7 linked regions of the Homo sapiens genome follow. The protein of the gene in region 1 interacts with the protein of each later gene in a pairwise test. Each region holds a gene or a part of one and is shown on either strand. Other genes may lie near its edges. The genes, in order: NBPF19, PHLDA1, STAC, TMIE, FAM221A, FADS2 and P2RX7.

Region 1 (3,500 bases):
CAGGTGAGGGGACCCCGTGGGGGGAGGGCAGGCGGGTAGGTGTGTAGATCTCTGAAGTACAGCAGCTCGGCGGGGAGAAATAAGAACGAAGCTGGGCCAGGGGAAGGGCAGAAATTGCCATGACAGGCTCATGACACACAAATATTTATCAGTGAACAAGGATAATAATAAGTTCTGTGTTGCAGTTGTTTCTTAGAGCCTTGTTTTCTCTTTTTCAAACAAGTAATTGTTGAGGTGAAATTTACATAACACAAAATTCACCAAAGGAGTGGGAACCACCCAGCAGCATTCAGTATAATCAAAATGGTGTGCTATCACCACCCCACTTACCCTTAGTGAGAATCACCTCCTGACTGACTGCGTCTTCTCATTCTTTCACTCAATCAATGTTGCCTTCTTGACCCTGTCCTTCTTTTCTTCTTTCATCTTTTCAATTCGCCCCATCTGCACCTGGCCTCATTTCTGTACATGGCTTTGTATTTAGTGGCCGCAAGATGCACTATGTGTATTTTCACATGGAAATGTCCATGGCCAGAGTGAGGAACTGAAAGGATGTCTTTTTGAAACGGAATTAGGAAGACACCTACTTTTGTTTACAGAAGAGAAAGATGAATGGAACATCATCGAGGATCTTGCAGGAGCCCTCTCTGATAGAGGGAAAGCCTGTAGACCATTTTCTATTCTTCCTCTTGGCCACAGTCATTCCTTTCAACATGTGCTGACCTTCTGCTTGGAGGTCTCCTTGAGGACATTGTCTCAGAAGTCTCTGTTGCAATATTTGAACGGATCACTCAACCCTTTCTACTCTTAAATTTTCTCTACCGTCTCACCTTAGGCAATATAAAGTCCTGTTTCACTCTCAGGAACGAGAGCTGACCCAGTTAAGGGAGAAGTTACGGGAAGGGAGAGATGCCTCCCGCTCATTGAATGAGCATCTCCAGGCCCTCCTCACTCCGGATGAGCCGGACAAGTCCCAGGGGCAGGACCTCCAAGAACAGCTGGCTGAGGGGTGTAGACTGGCACAGCACCTTGTCCAAAAGCTCAGCCCAGGTAAGGTGGCCATAGGCCCTGATGACCCAAAACCCCAGGCTTATGAGAGGCTCCAGACCTCCATACTTTCACAATGACAGTTATATCAGTGGGGTTTTTTTCTACTACACCTATGTGGCCATGACATGATCAGGACTTCCTGGGTAAGAACAGAGATGGGAAACCCATGGGTTTGGAGGTCACAGTATTGCAAGTGTCCCTCCTTCCTTGATGGAAGGTGGTCTTTGGAGCAAGAGGCAGCATCTATCTAGTTTTAAAGGACAGGAAGGAGGCTGTGATGGAAGGGCGCTTGTTGGAGTGAAAAGAGCTCTGGGCTAAGAATGAAGGTTCCCAGGCTGTATTTTTGGCAGTGTTCTTAGTAAGTGTCAGTGAGTGATTTATCTTTTCAGAGTTTCTCTCTCTCCATCTGCAAAGGCAGACAAATTGTCTCTTGCAAGGGTCTGAAGCATCCAAATATGGGAACACTTACGAATGCTTTTCAAAATGAGATGAAGCCCCTCTCCATGTGGTGTTGGAGAAGGCACTTGATGTGGGGGCATTTGGTGGTAGGAAGTGCTTCAGACTGGAGCACTCCCCATGGATAGAATGTCCCTGAATAACACAGCAGAAGCCACATGGAGGGCCTGTGCAGTCTCATGACGCATAGAGGACTGTGGGACAAGTTTGTCCTCTCCTAAGAGAAAGAATGAGGTTTGAAATGCAAACCGTGACAGGACACCAAGCCTGTGCCTGGGAATCAGATCTGGCAGGATGGGGGAGACAGCTGCCAACGTCCAGAGAGAGGCTGCACAAGCCTCCAGTGATATGGGAAGCAAAAGGTCTTTTCAATATTTGGCCACATCTTGATGGTGGCCCTCCAGATCAGAAATGCATTGCCTGATGGATCAGGAAACCATGGCAGGGCATTCTGTTAAAGATAAAACATGAGAGTTTTCAGTTGAACGGTGACCCATGCCTAGATGTTCATGTCTCTGTTGCACATTGGGCTGACTGTGCTTGCAGACTGTGAAGTGGGAAATATCTGAACGAACACTTCTGTATTTACAGAAAATGACAACGATGACGATGAAGATGTTCAAGTTGAGGTGGCTGAGAAAGTGCAGAAATCGTCTGCCCCCAGGTAACACTGAATACTCAGGAACAATTAATGGATGGTAACATATGAGGAATATCTAGGAGGCACACCCTCTCTGGCATCTATGATGGGCCAAAAACCCGCATTCGCTTGGCCACAGTATGTGAAATATAATCCAGCTTAGACACAGGGTGCGGTAGCTGTCATGTTTCTCTATGTGTGCTGAGTGTCATGTCTGCACCTTACAGGGATAGCTGAGTCTTCATCCTCCTCAGCTCCTATCTGTCCAGTGCAATGAACAGCAGCTGCTCTCTTCCTCTCTGGTTCCCATGGCAGCCATGCTCTGTTGCAGAGAGAACAGGATTGCATGTTCCCTCTTAATGGGAACCTCCATTTTGCTTTCTGGGACCACTCTCTTAATGCCGCCTGTCAAAACCAGCTAGGACTCCCTGGGGTCCAATCCCTCTGTGTTTAATCTTCTGTCATCTCTGTCCCACCTGGCTCATCAGGGAGATGCAGAAGGCTGAAGAAAAGGAAGTCCCTGAGGACTCACTGGAGGAATGTGCCATCACTTATTCAAATAGCCATGGCCCTTATGACTCCAACCAGCCACATAGGAAAACCAAAATCACATTTGAGGAAGACAAAGTCGACTCAACTCTCATTGGCTCATCCTCTCATGTTGAATGGGAGGATGCTGTACACATTATTCCAGGTAGCCTCTGTTTTCCTTGTGTCTCATACCTCTCTCTAGGCTGAGAAAGATAAACTCTGAAGACAGGCTCTATAAACACAAATTCATTTGAATAAAAAACTGTGATGGGTTTCTAAACAGATATCAGGGAGTTTTTTTGTCCTTCTCAGCTAATGTCATGACTTTGTCTGCCAGTCCCCAGTATCAAGTTACTCAACCCCAGGCAAGTGTGACAATCTCATAGTCACCTGAGTGCAGGAGGTGCACAGGCAGTATCTGTCAGGCCTCCTATCTTCGATTCAGTATCTCTTGTCATCTGTGATTAAGTCATCTGTCCCTGAACAATGTCCATGGAGTTTCTATGCCTGTTTAAGGAAGCTGGCAGCCTTGCCTTTGTATTTGGAAATATTGTTCCCCAGGCTTCACTGCTCTCAGCTTTCATCTGGATCTCCTTTAAGTCAGCTTGCTTAGCTGCACAGTCACCCTGAAATCAGGACGGAAACTTTTCTTCTTTACTTTGCTGATATATTTCCATAAAGCAAGGCTGGACCCTGGTTCTCCACCCTGTCAATGCAATGGCTGATCCAATGTTTCTTTGTAGCATCGTGGATTTTTTTTTTTTTTTTTTTTTTTTTGCAATGGAGTCTTGCTCTGTCACCCAGGCTGGAGTGCAGTGGCACC
Region 2 (3,589 bases), on another chromosome or scaffold:
CCTATTTTAAAGTCTTTTGAGATTTAAAGGCTTTTAGATGCCAGTGGAGATTGTAAGAATAAAGTTATGCTATTTTTCTTTAAAGAATCAAGTCCCTCTTCTGCTTTCAACACAAAATAGGAAGGTCTATGAATACCGTTTGAAGGATGACTCAGAGACAAAGCTTTACCCTCCCAAGAGACATAAGAGAACTAGACTACCTCTGGGACTCAAGAGGGTATTGCTGTTGAGCTGATTCACTAGGAACTGTTTCTGGTCCTCTGGGAAACTATGGAAAATTCAATTAAAGTTCATTAGCATTCTGAAAGCTAATTTTTTCACCAACATACCTGAGCGAATTTTCATATTCCAAATTCCCAGTGAATTTTTTAAAAGATGAATTCCCAACCTCAAAAATGGTCTTTTTTTTTCCCAGAATGCCCAAGCAATTCAGAATCTCTGTTTCACAGGAACACACAATGCATGTGCCAGTTGAACAAGGCCTTCAAAAGGTCCACAGGTCGGTTGTCTCAATAGATAACTTTATTTGAAATGAAATGCATTTTGAAAATATGAAAAATAAATCACATCTCCCCAAAATCATCTAAGAGACATATTTACACAAGTTCTGACCATGCTAAAAAATTCATGAATGTGATGGTGTATAAAGCATTTGGTACATGATGATACTTGCTTTCCAGAAGCTGGCATTTGCATATTATAAAACGTTAAGAAGAAGGCTGACCTCGGAATGTAACAGACAATAGTTTTATGTTTCTTCTCAATATACAGTGACCTGGAAGGACTCCCTGTTGTTAAAACCTGCTTCCCCACTGCTCAGCCTGCCATCAGCCATCCAGCTGCAGAGCAGTGGAGAGTAGGTCTCACCAGTTTTTGTGCAGATGCTTCTAACCCAGAGTCCTTCTGCTTACTTCATTGGACAATATTGCCCTTTCTAAGAAAACCCTTTTAGATCCTGTACTCCACTTAGCAAATGCCCTGCCAGCAAAGTCACAGATGACTTTTTTACCCAATCTTAGGTAAATCTGGATTATCTGCCCAACCGTGCAAGTCAATAAGCCACCCTTGAAAACTGTGTCAAGATTTGAGGAAACAGGTCTTAAGAACCTATCCAACACATGATTCCATAACCAATACATCTTAGGTTGTTTTAGGCAAATAGGTGTATCTCTTGAATCACTGATGGATTCAATATCAAGATCTATAATTTTCACGTTTAAAATTTACTCTGCCGAGGACATTTTATTGGTAAAGCAAAAACCAGTTAGTTTGACACACACGAAAAAGAAAACAAATGTTCACAGTCCTATCTTCGTAGGATTCTGTGCTATAAAATTGCTCCAGGTTCAAGTCTTAGACCACTCTTCTAAGGCTGCTACTGAATATAATATTAACACTGGAGCCAAGCTAAAACTACATGACTTTTCCCCTAGGGACAGAAAACAAGGGATGTGTTTGAACTCATACACTTGCAGCAAACTTTACTGTCAGATATAAAATTAGGGCTTTCTCTTAAAGGGCTTCTTTAAGAGAAATACAGAGTGTTTGGTATATGAGAGAAAAAAAGTTAAAACAGGACTTTCAACTTAATCCAGACTTCCTAACAGTGTTTACATGTGAGGGAAACTCCTTTAAGTAATGCGTAGTTTTTATTTTTACCATCATTGGAGACAAAAAAAACAAAAACATAAACATCTGAAGTGAAATTATAAAGATGGCTTGATTTCTACATTAGAGAATCCCAGCTTGCTCAATGAGGAAAATGTTCATTTTAAAAGGGCCCCTTATAGACATTTGCTCTTTGACGTCAGCACTCCCCATAGAGCACACCCAGATCTAAATGGATTTCCACTAAGAAAGTCTGTTTAAGAAACTTCATCATGATGTTTAGCCTGTCCCAGAATTCATTGTTCTCAGGGAATGACATGAGAGCAAAGAAAAGGAACACTCAGTGAGGCAAGAGACAGCATCTCCCAGATGCTGGGAAGTTACACATTTTGTCCTTCCTTCCTTTGTCCCAACAGTTATTGAGCTCACTGTGTATGAGGCTTGGTGCCAACACAAGTTCAAGGACAAAAGTTCAGTTTCCAGATGGAACATTACTCTTAATTTTCCAACTTTTTACATTTTATGTTTATTTAAGGAGCGGGTCTTCTATTGGATCTGCCCTTTCGGTTGAAAAATGCATTTTTTACCTTTTTCCATGAAGCTGATTTGTCAGGCTTCAAAATATCTTAGGTGGTTTTGTATCATTTTCTTACAGGTAGAATAGAGCCACTGGGACATTAAATGATGTACATTTATATTTTGTTTTGTTTAGTCTTATTGAGCGTGTTTGCTTTTTTGCTCTGGAAAAATTATTAATAATAATTTCAAAGGTGTCAAAACAATAAAAGCCATTCTACTTCTAATTTCTTAGATTTCACATTAAATGCTAAGAGGGGTTCAGAATAGAAAATGATAAAGGTCAACATAAATATCACAGCAGACTAAGGAACAAGGGCTACAGAAAGTCAAGAAACCATTATTCTGGGGCCGGGTGTGGTGGCTCACACCTGTAATCCTAGCACTTTGGGAGGCCAAGGCAGGTGGATCACCTGAGGTCAGGAGTTCGAGAACAGCCTGACCACTATGGTGAAACCCCATCTCTACTAAAAATACAAAAATCAGCCGGGCGTGGTGGCATTCACCTGTAGTCCCAGCTACTCAGGAGGCTGAGACAGGAGAATGGCGTGAACCCAGGAGGCAGAGGTTGCAGTGAGCCGAGATCGTGCCACTGCACTCCAGCCTGGGTCACAGGGCGAGACTCCATCTCAAAAAAAAAAAAAAAAAAAGAAACCATGATTCCGGTGGCCCTATTAAGAACCATGGCCACCACGGGCGAAGAAAAAGAAATCCAGCCACCAAGAGGGAGCCTAGGCGCATCTTTTTAAGCAATGAAATTACCTAGCCCCATATGTAAGCTAACAACATACAAATGCCTTTTTTAAAACCTACATCAATCTTAATTTGTAAAAATATTTGGTATGGATTTTTTTTTTTTAGTACAAGAATTAAAAAAAAATCCTCCATTGGGAAAAAACTGTGGTTCATTTGGAGCTATTATGATTTGCATGCATTAAAAATATAGTACTATGAGGTACTCCTCAAAAAGTACAGCCACAGTTCTAAGGAAGCTGAACCAAACTTGATTTAAGAAATCTTTAGATGTGGCTCTCATTTCATATACATATATACATACATACACATATATACATATTCATATATGTGTACACACATGTTCTCATATATGTATATATACATACATATTCATATATGTGTATACATATATACATATGAAACAAGTTTTTAAATGTTGGCAGCATATTTTCACAACTGCAACCTAAACAACCACTGGAAGTGGGGGTCCACTTAAGTTTTGTTTGCCATTAGCTTAATAGGGGAAAGCTATTTTAATTTTCCCTGCAACTTTTTGGATATGAGTTATGATCTCAAAATGTCATTTAACTATTGCACTAAAAAGTAATTTGACCTTGGAACTCCTTTCTAGATGGAAGGAGAATAAAGACATCTGTAGCATGTAATTCTA
Region 3 (3,500 bases), on another chromosome or scaffold:
GCTGTAGTAACGCCGAAACCCCTTTGGCTGGAGAGAGAATGAGGAAGGCAAGGGGTTAATGTCACTGGAGATGGAGAAAACCATACAAGAGCTCCCTAAATAAAACCAATTGGTTTCTCCAGGAGCACCCTCCTGTCTCCCATTAACATGCCGACTTATCCTATAATTCCACAATTTAATCCCAGCAGGGACACAGAGGCAGGGAGGAATAGTGGCAACTAGCAAGTTACACTCTATCCAGAAAACAAGGTCCTGGCCCTGGCCTCCCCAGTCGTGTCTGTCCTCCTCCTGCAGTGCACTGCAGCCTCCTTTGCATCCCAGATCCTCATTGCCTCCTGGATTACAAGTGGACTGCCACATATTATTTCACCACAGTTTGTTATTGTGGTTTGTTAAAATAATATAAATAAAAGGCCTGGGCATGGGTAAGTGGACCTCAGAGGGAGGCCTAAAAGCTCCTGTATATCTGAAGAGCTTTAGCCAGAATCATTTGCTCTGTAATCTGGATTCTATTCTCTGTTTTTCTGACCTCTCCTTCATGGTCTGTCTTGGCTTATGGGAATCACCACTGGAGAAGGAGAAGGGGAAGCAGGGGAGGCAGAGGTTTGAGAAAAGAGACATTGCAAATCAGAGTAAATAGATAAACTAAGAACCTGGACTTGACTGTACTCCATTACTGGATGGGAACTTGGTGGCCCAGTCCCTTCTAGAATTCCAGAATCCTGTCTAATGTTCCTGGAAAGTGGTGTCCCTTGTCGTTACACTGTCAGTGATGGGAGGGGGTGAAGGAGCATTCACTAACCCTGGAAGCAAGACATTATCTTTTATTGTTAAGACTTAGTATCCACTGATCTTAGGTCTTTCCCCAGGAGCCTCAAAGGACAATGGAGTTACTCTTCTAAATTTTAGGTCTAAAATTGTTGAAGACAGCTGTTGATGTCCTGTCTAATTATTCTCTAGGGTAGACATTCTTCGTCCTTTCTACAATTCTTTGGCCATCCTAGTTTCAAACACCCTCAAATGCGCTCTGGATTGCTTTTTGAAAAAAAATTTTTGAGACAGGTTCTCACTGTCACCCAAGCTAGAGTACAGTTGCGCAATAATGGCTTACTGAAACCTCTGCCTTCTGGGCTCAAGCGATCCTCTAATCTCAGCCTCCTGAGTAGCTGGAACTACAGGCACACACCACCACACTCAGCTAATTTTTAAATTTTTGTAGAGACAGGGTCATGCCATGTTGCCCAGGCTGGTCTCGAACTCCTGGGCTTAAGGGATCAACCCACCTTGGTGTCCAAAGTGTTGGGATTATAGGCGTGAGCCATTGTGCCTGGCTTGAATTGCCTCTTAATCAATATGTGGCACCAGGACTGAAGCCCATCCTCCTGAGATGGTATGATCAGCCATCTCAAGGGCCATTCAATCTCCCTTGGTTTGGGAGATTCTGTTAAAGTGGTGCAGATATTTATTACTCTCTCCTCTTTTGTGGGGGCTTAGCTCTTGTCCTCTCTTGCTACCCACTGAGCTGACCACCAAGGAAGCACTAGAGTGACCAACCATTAGTTTGCCTGGGACTTAGGGGGTTCCTGAGATGCATGACTTTCACTTTTAAAACCTGAACAGACCCAGGATGTGGGACTTTCAGTATTAAAACTGAGAAAGTGCCAACCTGGGAGAAGTTGGTCACTCTGTTAATGACCCTGACTCCCTTTCAAGGTGGGGCATTGTTGATTGGGTTGACAAAGCCCTTGTCCTTGTTTTCTGATTACGCCAATTAGGAAGCCAAGCTGGCAGCCAGTTCTGGGGTGCTTTGCTCAGGGTTTCAGGGAAGGATTTTGGAGGGGGTGATCTCACTGCAGCAGGCAAGTGCCCTAGCAGAGAGGTGTGGGCCTCACTCCTGGCACAAGCCCTTACCAGCTTGCCCATGCACCGCTGGGGTGCCAGGCCATCTGTGCACTTGTGGTGGATGCTCATCTTACAGGCTTTGCAGCGCAGTCCATGCTTAGCATTTGTTCCTGTCAGGTACATGGCAAACTTTGGTTAGGATACAACCTGCCATTTCCTGCTGATTAGTCTAAAATCACAGAAAATGAGGTTCCCCAGGTAATTCTTTCCTACAACTTTTTCATGAAGCTTTCAAAATAGAAAAAAAATATATATGGTAGATTCTTTTGCTTTCTCCTGCATTTTCTACCTAAGGTATACACTCTGGTTTATCTCCATCTTTCCTATTCACTACTCCAGGAACTCTAAGCCTCCTCCATGCCCTTTGTTCTCTCAATTCAAGCTAGTGAATTCCATTTTCTTTGCTTTTCATGTAGGTTACTCAATTCTACTTTTCTGTGTCTTACTGAGTAGTGCAAGTCCCGAAATTTGATGTATTTTCTTCTGTATTTCTATCACAGGAACTGAGCCGTTGGATAAATTCTCAGGAAAATGACTGATTAAGGGGGAAGGGCAGGTCTGTGTGAGAGTGGGGCTGACAGTCTTCTAAAGAAGGGGAGAGAGGACTCAATCAGATGCCAACCCCAGCCTGGGGAAAGAGGAAGAAGATGCGAATGATAATGAAATTGTGGCTGCGGTGAGTCACTTAGCTTCTTGGGACAGGGTGCTATCATGGAGTGAGAAGAAAGAAGGCTGAGAAGAAAAGGCAGAGAGCCATCCTGGTATCTTCATGCACAAAGGCCCAAGGCAGGAGCACTGGAGAGGAACTGGGAGGCCTAATAAGAGGGCAGGGTGTGGGGGCTTCAGGAAGATGGCAGGTGCTGCACACCGGTGTTCATTATTTCAGAAAGTGGCTGGATAAAGCTTAAGACGGATGTTAAAATGGGTGTGTTCTGCCTTCATCTAGTCACAGACAAGAGAATGCCATCTGCTCTGATATCCCAAAGTAAGATGGTAGGTTCCCAGGCAAGTCTCAAAAAGGTGCCAAAATGTATTTTTGCCACTCTTAGATGACCAAGCATCTCATGTATTAGAAAAGAGGAAGAAAGGTGAGGTAGTGGAGAGAGTATTTCTTTGCAGAGTTGTTGAGGCACTATCAGTCTTATCCCTCCTCCTTTACCATGATGAGAAGGATGGGGTGTGCTCTGTTGTCTCCTCAGTCCTGAGAGGGTTTCAAGGAGACTATTTTAACAGCTTGACCTATGTGAGTCTGTGGGACATATGGCTGTGGCCATACCCATTCTTGGAAAAAACTAAAAATAAGAGACGTGGGTGGCCAGGGGTCCTGTCAGCCTACTGAGGAGACAGCTGTGTGAACAAGGCCTGCACTCCAAAAGATTGTTAGGAAAAGGGTTGGTGAGTCCAACAAGTATGTGATTCTCATGGATCAGATATGGATTATGTAGAATGCTATGCAAGATGACAACCTGGAGAGACAACAGGATTTCAACAAAGTAAGTCTCTTTAGAGGGGAGATACAGGAATGAATATGTCCAGGTAGTATGAGACATGAAGTCAAGATACCCCACTGTACAGCACAGCCATCCACAGACCCAAAG
Region 4 (4,151 bases), on another chromosome or scaffold:
AGCCTGGCCTGTGACCAGCAGCATGAGGAAGTGGGGATTGGAGTGCTGCAACAAGTGATTTGGATTTTAGCAGAGTTCCTGTTTGCCTGGCCAGGGCATGCCTGGGGAGGACTGGGTGGCCCAGCCCACTCAGTCCCCAGACTTTACCTCCCACTGTTGAGCGTTTCCTCGATGGGTCTCCTGGGCTGCAGTCCTTCTCCAACAGCTCTCGTTTTCCTGCCTGGCTGTCATCTCCGGGCCCTGACACTGGCAGGTGACCGCAGGTGGCCCTCCGCTCCCTGCTGCAGCCTGCTGTGGTCCTTGCCCATTCATGGCATGTCCAGGCCAGAACCTCACAGGGCTCTGGAGCCACAGGGTCTCCCTGGTTCTCAGGGCAGGCCTTGCTGGGCCATCCCCAGCCTGCGCAGGCCTTCACCAGTGCCCCTGGTGATAAGGGTTCCAGGGGCCCAACACCTGGGCTGCTTCTCCTAACACTCAGCAGCAGGAGATAAATAAGAATAGAAGGAAGGAAGAAAAGGAGGGAAGGGGAGTCTACCAACTCCAGGCCTCCCCACTCCTCTTCCTAAGTCTTCAGCCCCCACCCAGGTCTCTACATCTCCTCAGAACCTCCCTCTGTCCCTCAGTTGTCAAGGCTCAACATGGGGTCAGGGCCAGAGTGCAGTGTGGGTCAACTTCAGCATGAGGTCAGGGTCCTGGCTTAGACTGAAGTCAGAGTCAGTGTTCAGGCTGGGGCAGAGATTGAGGGCAGCCAGGGTCAGAAAATGGTCCTCCAGCCCTTCCAGGGACAGCCCACTTCTGTCCTGTGGGGCTGAAGATGCTGGCTTCTTCTGGAACCCTCCATAACACTGCCGGCTGGCAGCTCTGACCATACCATCCCCTGCTCTCCAGCTCTGGTGTCCAGGGTGACCAGAGCCGCCTCTGGGCAGGAAGCCAAGCCAGAAAGCCCAGGACATCCCTGAGCGCCTGTCACCATGGCAACCTGCCCGCTCTGCCCCCCCCCCAAACTCAAATCCAGTATATTTTTCAAATCCAGCATGACAGAATGGGAAGGGCCTCCTAGATCAGCAGATTCCAGTCCCACCCCCTTGTCCCAGATGGAGAAACTGAGGCCCATTTGCAGAAGGGAGGGGGACCTGTTGATTAGGGACCTGGCCCCAGCCTGTCCTCCCTCCCGCCCACCCCCACCTCAGTGTCCCTGGGGATGCGGAAGGTGGGGGCAGGGAGGGGGAGCCTGCGGCCCGATCTCCCGGGAAGGAGGGGGCGGGCCCTCCACCGCAGCGATGGCGGGGGCGGGCGGCGCGGGAACCTGACACCGAGGATGAATAAATGATGCTCGCTGACTACCCGTGGCCAAAGCCCGTGGCCACCGAGCGCCGGCTGGCAGGGGCAGTGACCGGCGGCCGGCCCGTTCGTCCCTGGGCTCCGCAAGCGGCGCGGTGGCACGAAGATGGCGGGGTGGCCGGGCGCGGGTCCCCTCTGCGTGCTGGGCGGCGCCGCACTCGGGGTGTGCCTCGCGGGGGTTGCCGGGCAGCTGGTGGAGGTGAGGCCGCGGCACGGAGGGACTGGGGAGGCTGTCACCCTCCAGGCAGGGGGCTGGGGGAGAGGGGACGCCTTTTTGATCCGGAGCTTGTTTGATCCCTTACTCTTGCCCTGAGAGATCCAGTCTCCCGGGCGATGCAGCCCTGCCCCAAGCCCTGCCAGGCTGTGAGAGAGACTCAGCCCCACTCTTAGGGTCCCTGGTCTGATGGAAGGGCACAGTACCCGATTTCTGGAACATTAGTCTGACGGGGGAGACTCACCTTGACCTTAGGGATTCCCAGCCTGACTTGGGGACACAGCCCTGCCCAGACTGATGGGGGATACTGGGCCCCCATCCTCCAGCCTTTGGTCTCACTGGCAGGGAGGTGCACAGCCCTGGGTTTCCTGGACCTCTAGTCTGATGGAACAGACCCTGAATTTAGGGTCTTCTGGAGGCAACAGCCTCTATCTCCAGAGATGTTCCAGGGACCCCTGTCTAATGGAGGGGGAGACATAGCCTTAAGATGGAGACGAGGGCATTCCAAGTTGGAGGGTGGGGGCAGCAGGATGAGGAGACCCTTTACAGAGAAGCTATGTGGAGCACTAGGTCCAGAGGGGCAGGCAGGGCAGGACCTAGGGACTGGGAAGTCTGACTTGGTCCTGGTGATAACCGGGAGCTTTAGAAGGTTTCTGCTCAGGGACAAGTCATGATGAGTTCTGGTTTGGAAGGAGGGTAAATTGGGAGCAGGCACACAGTGGGAGAGGTGGGAGGAGCTGCTGAGATAGCACAGAAGCTGGGGGAGAGCCCTGGTGGAGAGCCTGGCTGGGGCCAGGAAGGGTGGGGCCATCTGTAGCCTCCCTAACCCCCTTGTACCCCACTCCTGCGGAGCCTGAAAGGGGAGCCAACGAGGGAGCTGGCAGACCAGACCTAGAGTTCTGAATTGTGAGGCCAGAGGGAGAAGGCCCAGGAGCCAGGGCCAGGGAGGAGCAGGGGATGGAGGCTGTGCAGGCAGGGGCGGACCAGAGGGAGCAGGAAAACAGAAATGCAAGAGGCAGTGAGAGGTGCCCAGGGAAGTCCTGAGGGGTGGGGGCTTGGGGACAGTGTGGGATAGAGAGGACAGAGCCATGGGGAAGTTGTTATGGGGGGACACAGCCCTGAACTGGAGGGTTTGATGGGGACATAGGGACAGAGCCCTGGACCCAGATGTAGCCTGTCCCTGCTGTTGCCCAGAGGGCATGACCACAAGGCTGGGCTAGAGTCAGGTGTCAGCTCCAGTGTCCCTGTAAGGGGAGCTATGCTGGCTTGAGCCCTGTGAGGCGTACTTGGGCCCCTCACAGGCTGCCCTGAGGCCTGGGTACAGAAACTGAGCTGGCCTAGGTGCAGACAGAAAGCTGGGGGTGGGGGTTAAGTCAGTTCTCAGCCAAGGACTCTTCTCCCTCACCCCCAGGAACTCATCTTTTCCCAGTTCTAGGGAAATTGCATTTGGAGGCCATCTGCCTGACATCTGCCTACAGTCTGAGCAAGGCCTTAGCTCTTCCCTCACGGAAGCACCAAAGACATGGGCAGGGCTGGGGGCCATGTCACCACCCACCTTAGCCCTGTGTGGGTCACCATCACCCTCCATCAGCCCGTGAGGCTCTGAAGGAGGTGGGGACCTCCATGCTCCAGAAATCAGACCCCAGCAGGGCCCAACATGAGGAGAAGACCAGCTGTCATCTGCTGCCGTCCACCCAAGACCCCTATCAGTAAGAGTAGGCCCAGCTCCACCCACATCAGGGCTGGGGCAAGAATGTGTAGGAAGTGAGCTGCCTTGGCTCAGAACCTGAGAACTTTGCCATGGCCCTCAGAGTCTTCCAGTCATACAACCAGCCGGGCCAACACATTGAGCCTTAGAATTAGGGCAGCTGCCACCATCAGGGCCCTAACCCTAATGGCACAGACATGTCCCTGACCACACCCACATGCATGCCAACCACACATGTGCCCAACCTCACACATGTTCCCCAACTTTATGTACATGTCTGACCCCACACATATATCCAGGGGAAAGTACTGAGGAATGGTGTCTTCTTGTCAATAGCTCACCCTGGCAGGGAGAAAAGAGCCTGAGAATCAGGTACCAATCCCAGCCCACAGATCCTCTGGGTTACCTGGGACAGGTTGCTGATCCTCTCTTGAGTTCTGCAACCCACGCTGAAGGGTGGCATTCACTAGATGAAGAAGCGCCTGGCTCATGACAGATGCCTAATCCATGTTTACGGACCTGGGGGAAGAAGGGCTGGATGGTCGAACTACAGGTTGCCTTTCTTCTCAGAGAACCAGAAGGGACTTCTCGTGTCTGTCCTTATTTAGTAATCAGTGCACAACATCTCGCTCATATGCCCCAGGGTTCTCTCTCCCTCAGAGGACAGACCCCTCTCCCTGTCCCTCAGCCACACTAAGTGACAGACATGGGGTCATATCCATCTCTGGTCAGGGACAGATCTTACTCAAATTCTACAGTGTGGGTCCATGTCCCTTCAGACCTAGGCAGGACTGTGTCCCCTAGACACCCAGGGTAGAGCTGTGTCCTCTAGACACCCAGGGCAGGACCGTGTCCCCTAGACACCCAGGGTGGACCATGTCCCTAGAC
Region 5 (2,976 bases), on another chromosome or scaffold:
CTGCTTTGGAAATGAAGGGACCCAGTGAAGACCTTCACTCGCAATGAAGGTGTACTTTTCTATGCAATTAGGCTCTTGGCTACCTGCCAAGAAAACCAGATGTTTTCCTACTGAAGCAATTTCAAAAGTTCCTTTCAGCATATAAATTAGTGCTTGATCCATTTGACAAAGTGATTACCGTAAAAAATGGATAAAATAGTTCAGTTTTGAAAGATTTTGAAGCAGGTACTATCATTACTTATGGTTGCCTATACCAAGCCTCAATAATTACTTTTGTGCATTATCTCAAAGTGTAACATGGATTTCTAGTTATAAAATGTAAAAAGTAGTTGGACAAAACTAAGTGTACTCTTATACGGAATAGCTATATGGTGCTATTTAATATGAACTGTGGAATATTTGGAGAATGTTTGCTAGTGAAAAACACTTTTGTCCTGTGATGCCATTCTCTCTAAAAGAGAATGAGGTAGTAGGACCAATTATTCATTTAGGCCATTTTTGGTTTGAAAAATAAAACATTATCACCGAGCAGGAGAAAACTTTTCTTTCTTTTATTTCAGGGGAATATGTAATGATATAAATACATTACTTAGATTTTTTTTCCTTGTTAGTAGGTACAAGTAGTCAAGTTTCTTCATTAAGGAGACCTGAAGAGGATGATATGGCTTTCTTTGAAAGACGATACCAGGAAAGGGTAGGTTTTTGAGGAAATTCAGTTGCACTAAGCATTTACTTGTAGCAAAAGCACTAGAATGATTATACATTGAATGTGGAACATCCTTGAAAATAATTTATAAAGTCTTTACTTACAGTTGGTGTTAGGCCTTGAGGCTTATTAGAATACACAGAAACAGGGCTAAAGAATAACATGATATTTAATACACTGGTTGATTTATGAAGGCCATAAAGATTGGATAAATACGCAGATAAAATTGTCAGTAATAAACATCAATATCAGCAGATTTGTAAATTATATGTATCTTGAATTCTTTTTTTATACATGTACCTTTATTTTTTATTTAAAAATATTTGCCAAATAAAGATTGAATATATTTTGAATTCTCTTTTTTTTTTTTTTTTTTTGAGACGGAGTCTTGGTCTGTCGCCCAGGCTGGAGTGCAGTGGCGCGATCTCGGCTCACTGCAAGCTCCGCCTCCCGGGTTCACGCCATTCTCCTGCTTCAGCCTCCCGAGTAGCTGGGACCACAGGCGCCCACCACCATGCCCAGCTAATTTTTTGTATTTTTAGTAGAGACGGGGTTTCACTGTGTTAGCCAGGATGGTCTGGATCTCCTGACCTCGTGATCCACCCGCCTCGGCCTCGCAAAGTGCTGGGATTACAGGCATGAGCCACCGCGCCTGGTGCCTATTTTGAATTCTTAATATGTATTATTTATTCTTCTTAGAGGCTTTTAGGTGTATCCAGACTCGTTAAAATTACCCAATACACATCTGGGCACAGTGGCTGCTTTTTTGCTTTAACTACAATGGAGGAGGAAAAGACTTTCAGAAAGGTAACTGTGGGAATATAGAAACCAGAATTATAGAAAACTATCCTTAAAGCAGTCCACGTTCCAGAGAGAATCCAGCTGGATTAGGTGCATTATGTAACTCTGTAGGGAATGTGCATAGGCTGGATGTAAGTTTAGTCATTTTAAGCACTTGTAATTTTAGTGGCAATTGAAATTGTTTTCTCTAAAGCAATATTCATATATTACTTTTATTAAAATGCTTCTGTAAAATTAAAATAAAACCATCTGAAAATGTGTAATTATGTCCCTTTAACAGATTTTGGCTTTAGTATTTAGCAGCTTAATAACTGTGGAATGGCTGTGACATGAATCTGAATGAGTTTTCTGCAAGTTTTTTTTCTTTAGAATGGTTTACAAGTTATTATATCAATAAATATGTTAAATTTACAGATGAAAATGGAAAAGGCTGCTAAGTGGAAAGGAAAAGCTCCATTGCCATCAGCTACAAAACCTTCATGAAGACTATTGGAGAAATTAAAACCATCATCCAAGTATCTTTTTCATGTTTATTTAAATGTAATAATACAGTTTATTTTTCCTGAAATTATTTACTTTTTTTTTTTACTGTATAAATGTCTTTTGGGATGTTTCCTTAATTTATTTAAATAACTAAAAATGCCTATTACTTTTGTCAAAACTCATAATTTACTACTTTGTATGTACCTTTCTTTCTCCTGACAAATGAGGTTATTTTATATGAGTCTGTCTGAGAGTACAGTAAATGTTTTTAGTACATAATAATTTAACTGTTTCAGGTATTTAAAAAATTAAAGATATTATCAAGGGTTTTGGACAAACATATGAGCCATTTTTTTGTCATTCAAAATAGTAAGTTAAAAACAAGAGAACAAAAGAAAAAAATAGTTAAAATCATTAATTTTTTTATTTTTCAAACTTTGTAATGTTATGTTTTCAAATAAAAACTATCTCAAAATTTTACAACCATTTTCTAGTGATATTACTGATTTTTTTTTTCAATCTTTCTCAGGCTGAAGATATCTACTGATTTTTACGTTGTGTTGTCAACCACCCATTGTCTATGACTGTACTGGACACATCTTGTGTGCCACTGCAAATCCTCTTGGCCCCGTTTCTTACTCCATTACTGCTGTGGAACACTTTCCAGCAGGCTTCTGATAGCGGAAGCCATTTGATGGCACCTTGTCTTGGGCGCATGTCATGGCTCTCTTGCTTCCTTCTGCAGGGATCTTCTGACACTGTGGCTTGGGATGCCCACTAGAACCCCACTGTATGATACATATGCAGCCCAAAGATGTTGGGGAGCTAGTGACTTTGGGGCCACTCTTGATTAATGGGAGGTGGAAGCCCAATACATAAGTGCTCTCCCGTCTGTTGGGAAGACAATTCTGAAATGCATTTCATAAACTTCCTCAGAAAGTCCTATCGTTGAGCTCCAGTCACCCATAGCAGTGGCCAACTCAATA
Region 6 (3,500 bases), on another chromosome or scaffold:
AGCCATGCAAACCCCGAGCAAGCAGGTGGCGTGTAGTTGCCCATTGCATTTCAGTGGGCTGCGGTCCAGCTTCTAGAGGCCTGAGTGTGAGGTGTGTGCACATCTGGGGCACGCACTTGGTGCCAGGGCAGAGGAGAGGGCAGGTTGCACCTAACTTCATCTTTCCCCGCAGGACCTGGCCTGGGCCGTCAGCTACTACATCCGGTTCTTCATCACCTACATCCCTTTCTACGGCATCCTGGGAGCCCTCCTTTTCCTCAACTTCATCAGGTGCCTGGGCTTTGCTGATTCATCCCTGGGCCCTCCACTGGCACTGATGATGGCTTTGGCATGAGAAGAGGCTCGGACGGCTCCACTTTGCCTGGGGACCTCCCATCCTGGCCCCTTGGCAGGGGCTGTCCTGGGCTGGTTGGGAGAGTGGATCTGTTCCCACTGTGGCTGGGCCCCCGGAGGCCCCTGCGCTGAGCTGTGTTCTCTTGCAGGTTCCTGGAGAGCCACTGGTTTGTGTGGGTCACACAGATGAATCACATCGTCATGGAGATTGACCAGGAGGCCTACCGTGACTGGTTCAGTAGCCAGGTAGGGAAGTCAGGGCCGGTCACCAGAGCCTGGTCCCAATGTCCATGTCCTGGCCCCAGATGATCTGCACCTGCTAACACAGGGCTGTGCTGGGCCTCCCGGGGCTGCCTGTGTCCTTTTGCTGGGAGCTTCAGGGCTGAGCAAGAAAGGGCAGCAGGAATCCCCCAGAGGGACAGGTGGGGCATCTGGGTGGGCTGAGGCCATCAGGCAGGACGGTATGATGTGGACGGGTGGCCTGGAGACCCTGGGTAAGGCTGGGCCCCCTGGGAATGAGGCCGGGCCCTTGGGCCTTCCTTTGTTCCCTGACACTCATCCCCTCCACTGACAGCTGACAGCCACCTGCAACGTGGAGCAGTCCTTCTTCAACGACTGGTTCAGTGGACACCTTAACTTCCAGATTGAGCACCAGTGAGCGCGGGGCTGCGGGGAGGCGGGGAGACCCACAGCGGGAGGGAAGTGGCCGCTATCCCACTGGGCAGAATGCAGAATGTGGGGGCCACCTCTTTGTCTCTCTGACAAGGTCTCTGCCCAATATAGAGCAAGGCTCCCAGCCAGCCCCGCTGAGGTCAGGAGAGGGGCTCCCCTATTCCATCTCCCTGAGGGTCATCCTGTGCCCCTCATGCTGTGCCACTTGGTCATAGTGGTTACCACCTCCCTCCATGTGGGCCTGGGACTTTGTAGTTATGGAGCCTGCACACGCACCTCATGACCCTGTGAGGCTAGCAGGGCAGGGCTACGTAGCTTGCCTGGAACATCGGCCGAGGGACTGCCCTGCTGCCCCTTGTCCTTGCTTCACCTCTTGTCACTGTTTTTTTTTTTTTTTATTAAAAAATAAAAAATGTAGAGACAGAGTCTCACCCTGTTTCCTGGGCTGGAGTGCAGTGGTGCTTTCTTGGCTCACTGCAGCCTCGAACGCCTGAGCTAAAGTCATCCTCCCACCTCAGCCTCCTGAGTAGCTGGGACTGCAGGTGCGTGCCACCATGCCCAACTAATTTTTTCTTTTTTTTTTTACTTTTATTTATTTATTTATTTTGAGACAGAATCTCACTCTGTTGCCCAGACTGGAGGGCAGTGGCGCAATCTCGGCTCACTGCATCCTCCACCTACCAGGTTCAAGCAATTCTCAGGCCTCAGCCTCCCACGTAGCTGGGATTACAGGCGTGTGCCACCACGCCCAGCTAATTTTTGTATTTTTTAGTGGAGACGGGGTTTCACCATGTTGGCCAGGCTGGTCTCAAACTCCTAGCCTCAAGTGATCCACCTGCGTTGGCCTCCCAAAGTGCTGGGATTACAGGTGTGAGCCACTGCACCTGGCCTAATTTTTTATTTTTATTTTTTGTAGAGAAGAGGTCTTGCCGTGTCGCCCAGGCTGATCTCAAACTTCTGGCCTCAAGTGATCTGCCTGCCTCGGCCTCCCAAAATGCTGGGATTACAGGCGTGAGCCACCGTGCCTCACCTCACTGCCTCTTTTCCTAGCATTCCCCAGCTATTTCATTTCTTTTTTGAAAAACATGACACTTTGTCTCTGGCCACCCAATATCTTCCCAGCTCCATAGAGCACAAACGCCCTCCTGCTCACGGAGGGCTGCACCCTCCCCTCCACACACGTGGCACCCCACTGGGCACACACGAGGAGCCACACTTTGAGACTGGTCCTGGCTGTGGACAGGGTCTCTGAGGGCCCCAGCCAGCCTCTGCCCAGGTGGTGGGAGGAAGCGGGAGCAGCATGGCCCTCTGAGTCCTCACGCTCTGCCCACCCTACACACTCCTCAGCCTCTTCCCCACCATGCCCCGGCACAACTTACACAAGATCGCCCCGCTGGTGAAGTCTCTATGTGCCAAGCATGGCATTGAATACCAGGAGAAGCCGCTACTGAGGGCCCTGCTGGACATCATCAGGTGAGGGGTGGAGGTCCACAGGCGCTGGGCCCTGGGATCACCCGTGGTGCAGACAGTGGGATCACAAGAGGGGCTGGGCCCTCCTGGCACAGTCACCCACCAGGGCACCTGCCTTACTCCCGAGCCTGTGTTAGGAGCTGTTGGGCTTTTCTCCCTGGGCTGCGAGAAGACCATCCCTTTCTGTGTGGGGTTCCTGGTGGGCTCTGAGCTGACAGCCCCACAGGCCCAGTGGCAGTGGTAAGCCCTGGTTAGGGCCAAGGGGACATACATGCCACCTTAATGATGGCCTCCTCAGCCCTTGCACTCCCTGGGGCCACTCCCGTCCTGGTCCCTGACCCTGGTCCATCCCCAACTTTGCAGGTCCCTGAAGAAGTCTGGGAAGCTGTGGCTGGACGCCTACCTTCACAAATGAAGCCACAGCCCCCGGGACACCGTGGGGAAGGGGTGCAGGTGGGGTGATGGCCAGAGGAATGATGGGCTTTTGTTCTGAGGGGTGTCCGAGAGGCTGGTGTATGCACTGCTCACGGACCCCATGTTGGATCTTTCTCCCTTTCTCCTCTCCTTTTTCTCTTCACATCTCCCCCATAGCACCCTGCCCTCATGGGACCTGCCCTCCCTCAGCCGTCAGCCATCAGCCATGGCCCTCCCAGTGCCTCCTAGCCCCTTCTTCCAAGGAGCAGAGAGGTGGCCACCGGGGGTGGCTCTGTCCTACCTCCACTCTCTGCCCCTAAAGATGGGAGGAGACCAGCGGTCCATGGGTCTGGCCTGTGAGTCTCCCCTTGCAGCCTGGTCACTAGGCATCACCCCCGCTTTGGTTCTTCAGATGCTCTTGGGGTTCATAGGGGCAGGTCCTAGTCGGGCAGGGCCCCTGACCCTCCCGGCCTGGCTTCACTCTCCCTGACGGCTGCCATTGGTCCACCCTTTCATAGAGAGGCCTGCTTTGTTACAAAGCTCGGGTCTCCCTCCTGCAGCTCGGTTAAGTACCCGAGGCCTCTCTTAAGATGTCCAGGGCCCCAGGCCCG
Region 7 (4,071 bases), on another chromosome or scaffold:
TGAATCGAATAATAATAATCCTAATAATAGCATTATTAATAATAAGAACTAACACTTAATCAGGGATTACTATATGCCATATATTTCTCAAACAGCTTTGCATTTATTAGTTCATTTAATATTCCTATCAACAATTCTCCCCATTTTACAGATGATGAAACCAAGGCTCAAAGAGGTGAAGGATTTTTGAATCCACGTTTCCAGATTTCAAATCCTGAACTTGGACGTGGTTACTTTGAGGGTCAGAGCAGAGGATATAGATAAAAATACATACATGTATTTTATATACATATATACTATTATATAATCAAAAAAATTATTACTATTATTATTATTTTGAGATGGAGTCTTGCTCTGTCACCCAGGCTGGAGTGCAGTGGCTTGATCTTGGCTCACTGCAACCTCCGCCTCCGGGTTCAAGCGATTCTCCTGCCTCAGCCTCCCTAGTAGCTGGGATTACAGGTGTGCACCACCACTCCCCACTAATTTTTGTATTTTTAGTAGAGATGGGGTTTCACCATATTGGCCAGGCTGGTCTCAAACTCCTGACTTCGTGATCCACCCGCCTTGGCCTCCCAAAGTGTTGGGATTACAGGTGTGAGCCACCACTCCCAGACTTAAAAAGATTATTTTTAAAAATAGATACTAGTTATGGAGCTCTTATCCTATGTCAGTCATCATGATAAGGGCTGTTCATGCCTTTTTTTTTTGGTTAATTGCCACAACCCTATGAACAGATGCAGAAACTGAGGCTCAGAGAAGTTAATGACTTGGCCCAGAAGACATAGCCAGTACTATGAAATAAGTTACCCTAACTCTTAGTAAACTACACTGCCACTCTATAGATACAAATTGCCTTCATCATCATTATCAATCAGCACAGAGAATAAGAGGCACTCACCATCAGGGAAATTCAAATCACAACCACAATGAACTACCACTTCACACCCACTAGCATGGCTATAATAAAAAAGACAGACAATCAGCCGGGCGTGGCGGCTCATGCCTGTAATCCCAGCACTTTGGGAGGCCAAGGTGGGCGGATCACTTGAGGTCAGGAGTTTGAGACCAGCCTGGCCTACATGGCGAAACCTCATCTCTACTAAAAATACAAAAATTAGTGAGGAGTGGTGACGCACACCTGTAATCCCAGCTACTCATGAGGCTGAGGCAGGAGAATCGCTTGAACCGGGGAGGTGGAGGTTGCAGTGAGCCAAGATTGCGCCACTGCACTCCAGCCTGGGCAACAGAGCAAGACTTCATCTCAAAGACAAAAACAAAATGACAACAACAAAACCCAAAAAGACAGACGATAACAAGCGTTGGTGAGGATGTGGAGAAATTGGATCCCTCATACTCTGCTGATAGGAATGTAAAAAACTGCAGCTGCTGTGAAATTCAGCTCCACATTCCCCCCAAAGGTGAAACATAGTTAACATATGACCTAGCAATTTTTACTCTTAGGTACATATTCGAGAGAAAGGAGAATATATATCCACATAAAACCTTGTACACAAATGTTCATGTGGCATTATTCATGATAGCCAAAAAAGAGAAACAACCCCAATGTCCATCAATGGATGAATGGATAGAAAAAAGTGGTCTATCCATGCAATGGAGTACTACTCAGCCGTAAAAAGGAATGAAGTATCAGCCGGGTGCAATGGCTCACGCCTGTAATCCTGACACTTTGGGAGGCCGAGGCAGGCAGATCACTTGAGTCCAGGAGTTTGAGACCAGCCTGGACAAAATAGTGAGACCCCGTCTCTTTAAAAAAAAAAATTGAATGAAGTATCAACACATGCTACAACATGGATGAGCATTGAAAACACGCTAAGTGCCACAAAGGACCACATATTATGTGATTCCATTTATATGAAATGTCCAGAATCGGCAAATCCATAGAGGCAGAAAGGAAATTGATGGGTGGGAAGGAGGAGGAACAGTGTTGGAAATGATGGTGAAGGAGTGTGGGATTCCTTTTGAGTCGATTAAAATATTCTAAAATTGATTGTGGGGATGGTTGCACAACTCTGGGAATAATCTGAAAATCATTAAATGGTACCCTTTAAATGGGTCAATTGTATGGTGTATAAATTATATCTCAGTAAGTTTCTTTTAGAAGAAACAAAAACCAAAAAGCAGGGCCTTCCTGACGTTGGTGAGGACCTAAAGTTATAACACATTTTCAAGCCTGGTCCTATTCCTCCCAAGCATGGTGACTCAGATGCCAGCATGATCACCAGGCGTGCCCTGAGATCCTCGCCTCCTCCCTGGGGATCCAGGGTGTTGCCCTGCGCTTTCCTACCTTCCCCAGGCACGCCCTGCCCTGCGCGCCCTGGCGGGCCTGAAGTAGAGCAGAAAGGAATCCCGCTTGTCCTGTGGCTTCTCTCTGCTGCAGCCTGGCACCGTTTCCTCTTGCCTGCTGCTGCTTCCTCCCTCCCGCCCAGCTGGCTGTGAGAGCACGTCTCAGATTCGAAAACCATGTGAGATTCAGAATGTGCACCTGAAGCTGCCCGCTGGGGCTTTCTGTGCTGTCGGCCACTGCAGAGATCTGGGTCCTCCCCAGATCCCACTTACCAAACGTAGGAAAAGATGATCACGTGGAAGAACCACTTAATGGTGCCATAATTCATGCTCTGGATCCGAGTGACTTTGTTCGTCTCATACTGGAAAACATCACTGCAGCTGCAGCAGGCCGGCATGGTGACAGCCTCCCTCCCTGCGCGGAGCTGGACCAGAGCTCTACTCTTCCTGACAGGGCCACAGCAAGCCCCCTCCCAGTAACTGCAAAATGAAACGTACTGGTTTTTAGCAGGAGTCTTTAACTTCAAGCTCCTCCAATGACTGCAGAGTTGGGGCGGGCCCTGGCAGTGGCCCCACATGTGGCTGTGATAAACAAGAAGCGCCAAGTCCTACGGGCCTGGCTGGCAGATGACCTCACCCCAGCTGGCCTCCCCCAGATGCCTACACAAAGATGGTGTTCAGAGGATGGGCATTTTTAGAATTCTCCCTTTTCCCCCCTTTCCTTTCACTTTTTTGGTCTCATGTCTCTTGGGAGAAAGGGGCAGCCTTGCAAATGTCACAAGACTGGGAGCTTCCATTATGCCTCAGAAAAGGACTGAGATCTTTCCATTGCCTGAAGCCCCACTCAGAGATTGATTCATTCATTTCTACAACCCTTTATTCAGCCCCTGATGTATAGGAGCTCTGGGTAAATGAAGATCTCCCCCTCTTCTTCCACCGCCCCTTATAATACTCTGGTCTGCAGTTGGTGGGGGAAATCAGATTTGCAGGGGTAGGGGTGGTGGGGGTGGAGGGGCTTTATTTTTCTGCCAGATCTTTCATGCTTGACCCTCTGAGTTACTCTCCACCCTCCTCTGCACCCCGGCAGGTCGATCTATGACCTAGACCAATCAGCCAAAGATCACCAGGGACACAGTGGCAGTCCAACAAAGTTAGGTTTGTTGACCTATTCAGTGAGGGACACCACCCACCAGAAGAGCTACGCACATCACCAAACAAAGGAAAACAGCAATTTATTATAGGATTCCGAGGAAAGTGGAGTTGAGATAAAATCTAAATGAAGTCATGTTTTGATGGACTCAAAGCAAAACAGGTTTGTACAAAGCAGTCAACTTCAGTCTGGATTGCAAAGAGGACCCAGGGCCCTGTTTCCTAGGAAGCAACATAGCTAAGATACATGTCAAATGTGTCCAGAAAATCTTTATCTGAAGCTCTGCTCCTGAGTTGTAAATTGAGGCTGCTTCTCTGTGTCAAGATGACTTAAATCTTCCAGGCAAAATTGGAATATTTCAGTCTTAGTCATGTAATTTCAAACAGCAAAGTTTCTGAAGGTCTCTGATTTTAAAGGACAATGTTTCAGCAGTCACTCAAAGATGCAGGGTTGTATTATCACTTTACAGCTACAGAGAATTATTGTTCCCTGTTATCTTTACAGCTGGCTTGATCCCTTTCTGTTATTCCAGCCTGCTAAGTGGCCGGGTAGATTTTCAGTTTTTCAGTCTAAACTAATTGTACTTTCTCACACATACAAACTGCATCAGGGTT

The links.
Region 2: the proteins of NBPF19 (region 1) and PHLDA1 interact in a two-hybrid assay, tested with the Homo sapiens proteins (one large-scale study listed by BioGRID).
Region 3: the proteins of NBPF19 (region 1) and STAC interact in a two-hybrid assay, tested with the Homo sapiens proteins (one large-scale study listed by BioGRID).
Region 4: the proteins of NBPF19 (region 1) and TMIE interact in a two-hybrid assay, tested with the Homo sapiens proteins (one large-scale study listed by BioGRID).
Region 5: the proteins of NBPF19 (region 1) and FAM221A interact in a two-hybrid assay, tested with the Homo sapiens proteins (one large-scale study listed by BioGRID).
Region 6: the proteins of NBPF19 (region 1) and FADS2 interact in a two-hybrid assay, tested with the Homo sapiens proteins (one large-scale study listed by BioGRID).
Region 7: the proteins of NBPF19 (region 1) and P2RX7 interact in a two-hybrid assay, tested with the Homo sapiens proteins (one large-scale study listed by BioGRID).

What each region holds. Positions count from the first base shown.
Region 1 is NC_000001.11:149,478,045-149,481,544, forward strand, and holds part of NBPF19 (NBPF family member NBPF19), read left to right. Parts: coding exon 1-3; intron 4-835; coding exon 836-1,050; intron 1,051-2,097; coding exon 2,098-2,170; intron 2,171-2,634; coding exon 2,635-2,840; intron 2,841-3,500.
Region 2 is NC_000012.12:76,024,947-76,028,535, forward strand, and holds the end of PHLDA1 (pleckstrin homology-like domain family A member 1), read right to left. Parts: 3' UTR 501-3,589; downstream 1-500. UniProt on the Homo sapiens protein: Seems to be involved in regulation of apoptosis. May be involved in detachment-mediated programmed cell death. May mediate apoptosis during neuronal development. May be involved in regulation of anti-apoptotic effects of IGF1.
Region 3 is NC_000003.12:36,481,504-36,485,003, reverse strand, and holds part of STAC (SH3 and cysteine-rich domain-containing protein), read right to left. Parts: intron 2,013-3,500; coding exon 1,912-2,012; intron 28-1,911; coding exon 1-27. UniProt on the Homo sapiens protein: Promotes expression of the ion channel CACNA1H at the cell membrane, and thereby contributes to the regulation of channel activity.
Region 4 is NC_000003.12:46,700,041-46,704,191, forward strand, and holds the start of TMIE (transmembrane inner ear expressed protein isoform 1 precursor), read left to right. Parts: upstream 1-1,351; 5' UTR 1,352-1,447; coding exon 1,448-1,540; intron 1,541-4,151. UniProt on the Homo sapiens protein: Auxiliary subunit of the mechanotransducer (MET) non-specific cation channel complex located at the tips of stereocilia of cochlear hair cells and that mediates sensory transduction in the auditory system.
Region 5 is NC_000007.14:23,700,175-23,703,150, forward strand, and holds the end of FAM221A (protein FAM221A), read left to right. Parts: intron 1-611; coding exon 612-694; intron 695-1,921; coding exon 1,922-1,990; 3' UTR 1,991-2,476; downstream 2,477-2,976.
Region 6 is NC_000011.10:61,862,800-61,866,299, forward strand, and holds part of FADS2 (acyl-CoA 6-desaturase), read left to right. Parts: intron 1-172; coding exon 173-270; intron 271-482; coding exon 483-579; intron 580-907; coding exon 908-987; intron 988-2,352; coding exon 2,353-2,478; intron 2,479-2,838; coding exon 2,839-2,890; 3' UTR 2,891-3,500. UniProt on the Homo sapiens protein: Involved in the biosynthesis of highly unsaturated fatty acids (HUFA) from the essential polyunsaturated fatty acids (PUFA) linoleic acid (LA) (18:2n-6) and alpha-linolenic acid (ALA) (18:3n-3) precursors, acting as a fatty acyl-coenzyme A (CoA) desaturase that introduces a cis double bond at carbon 6 of the fatty acyl chain.
Region 7 is NC_000012.12:121,131,605-121,135,675, reverse strand, and holds the start of P2RX7 (P2X purinoceptor 7), read right to left. Parts: upstream 2,801-4,071; 5' UTR 2,706-2,800; coding exon 2,581-2,705; intron 1-2,580. UniProt on the Homo sapiens protein: ATP-gated nonselective transmembrane cation channel that requires high millimolar concentrations of ATP for activation. Upon ATP binding, it rapidly opens to allow the influx of small cations Na(+) and Ca(2+), and the K(+) efflux.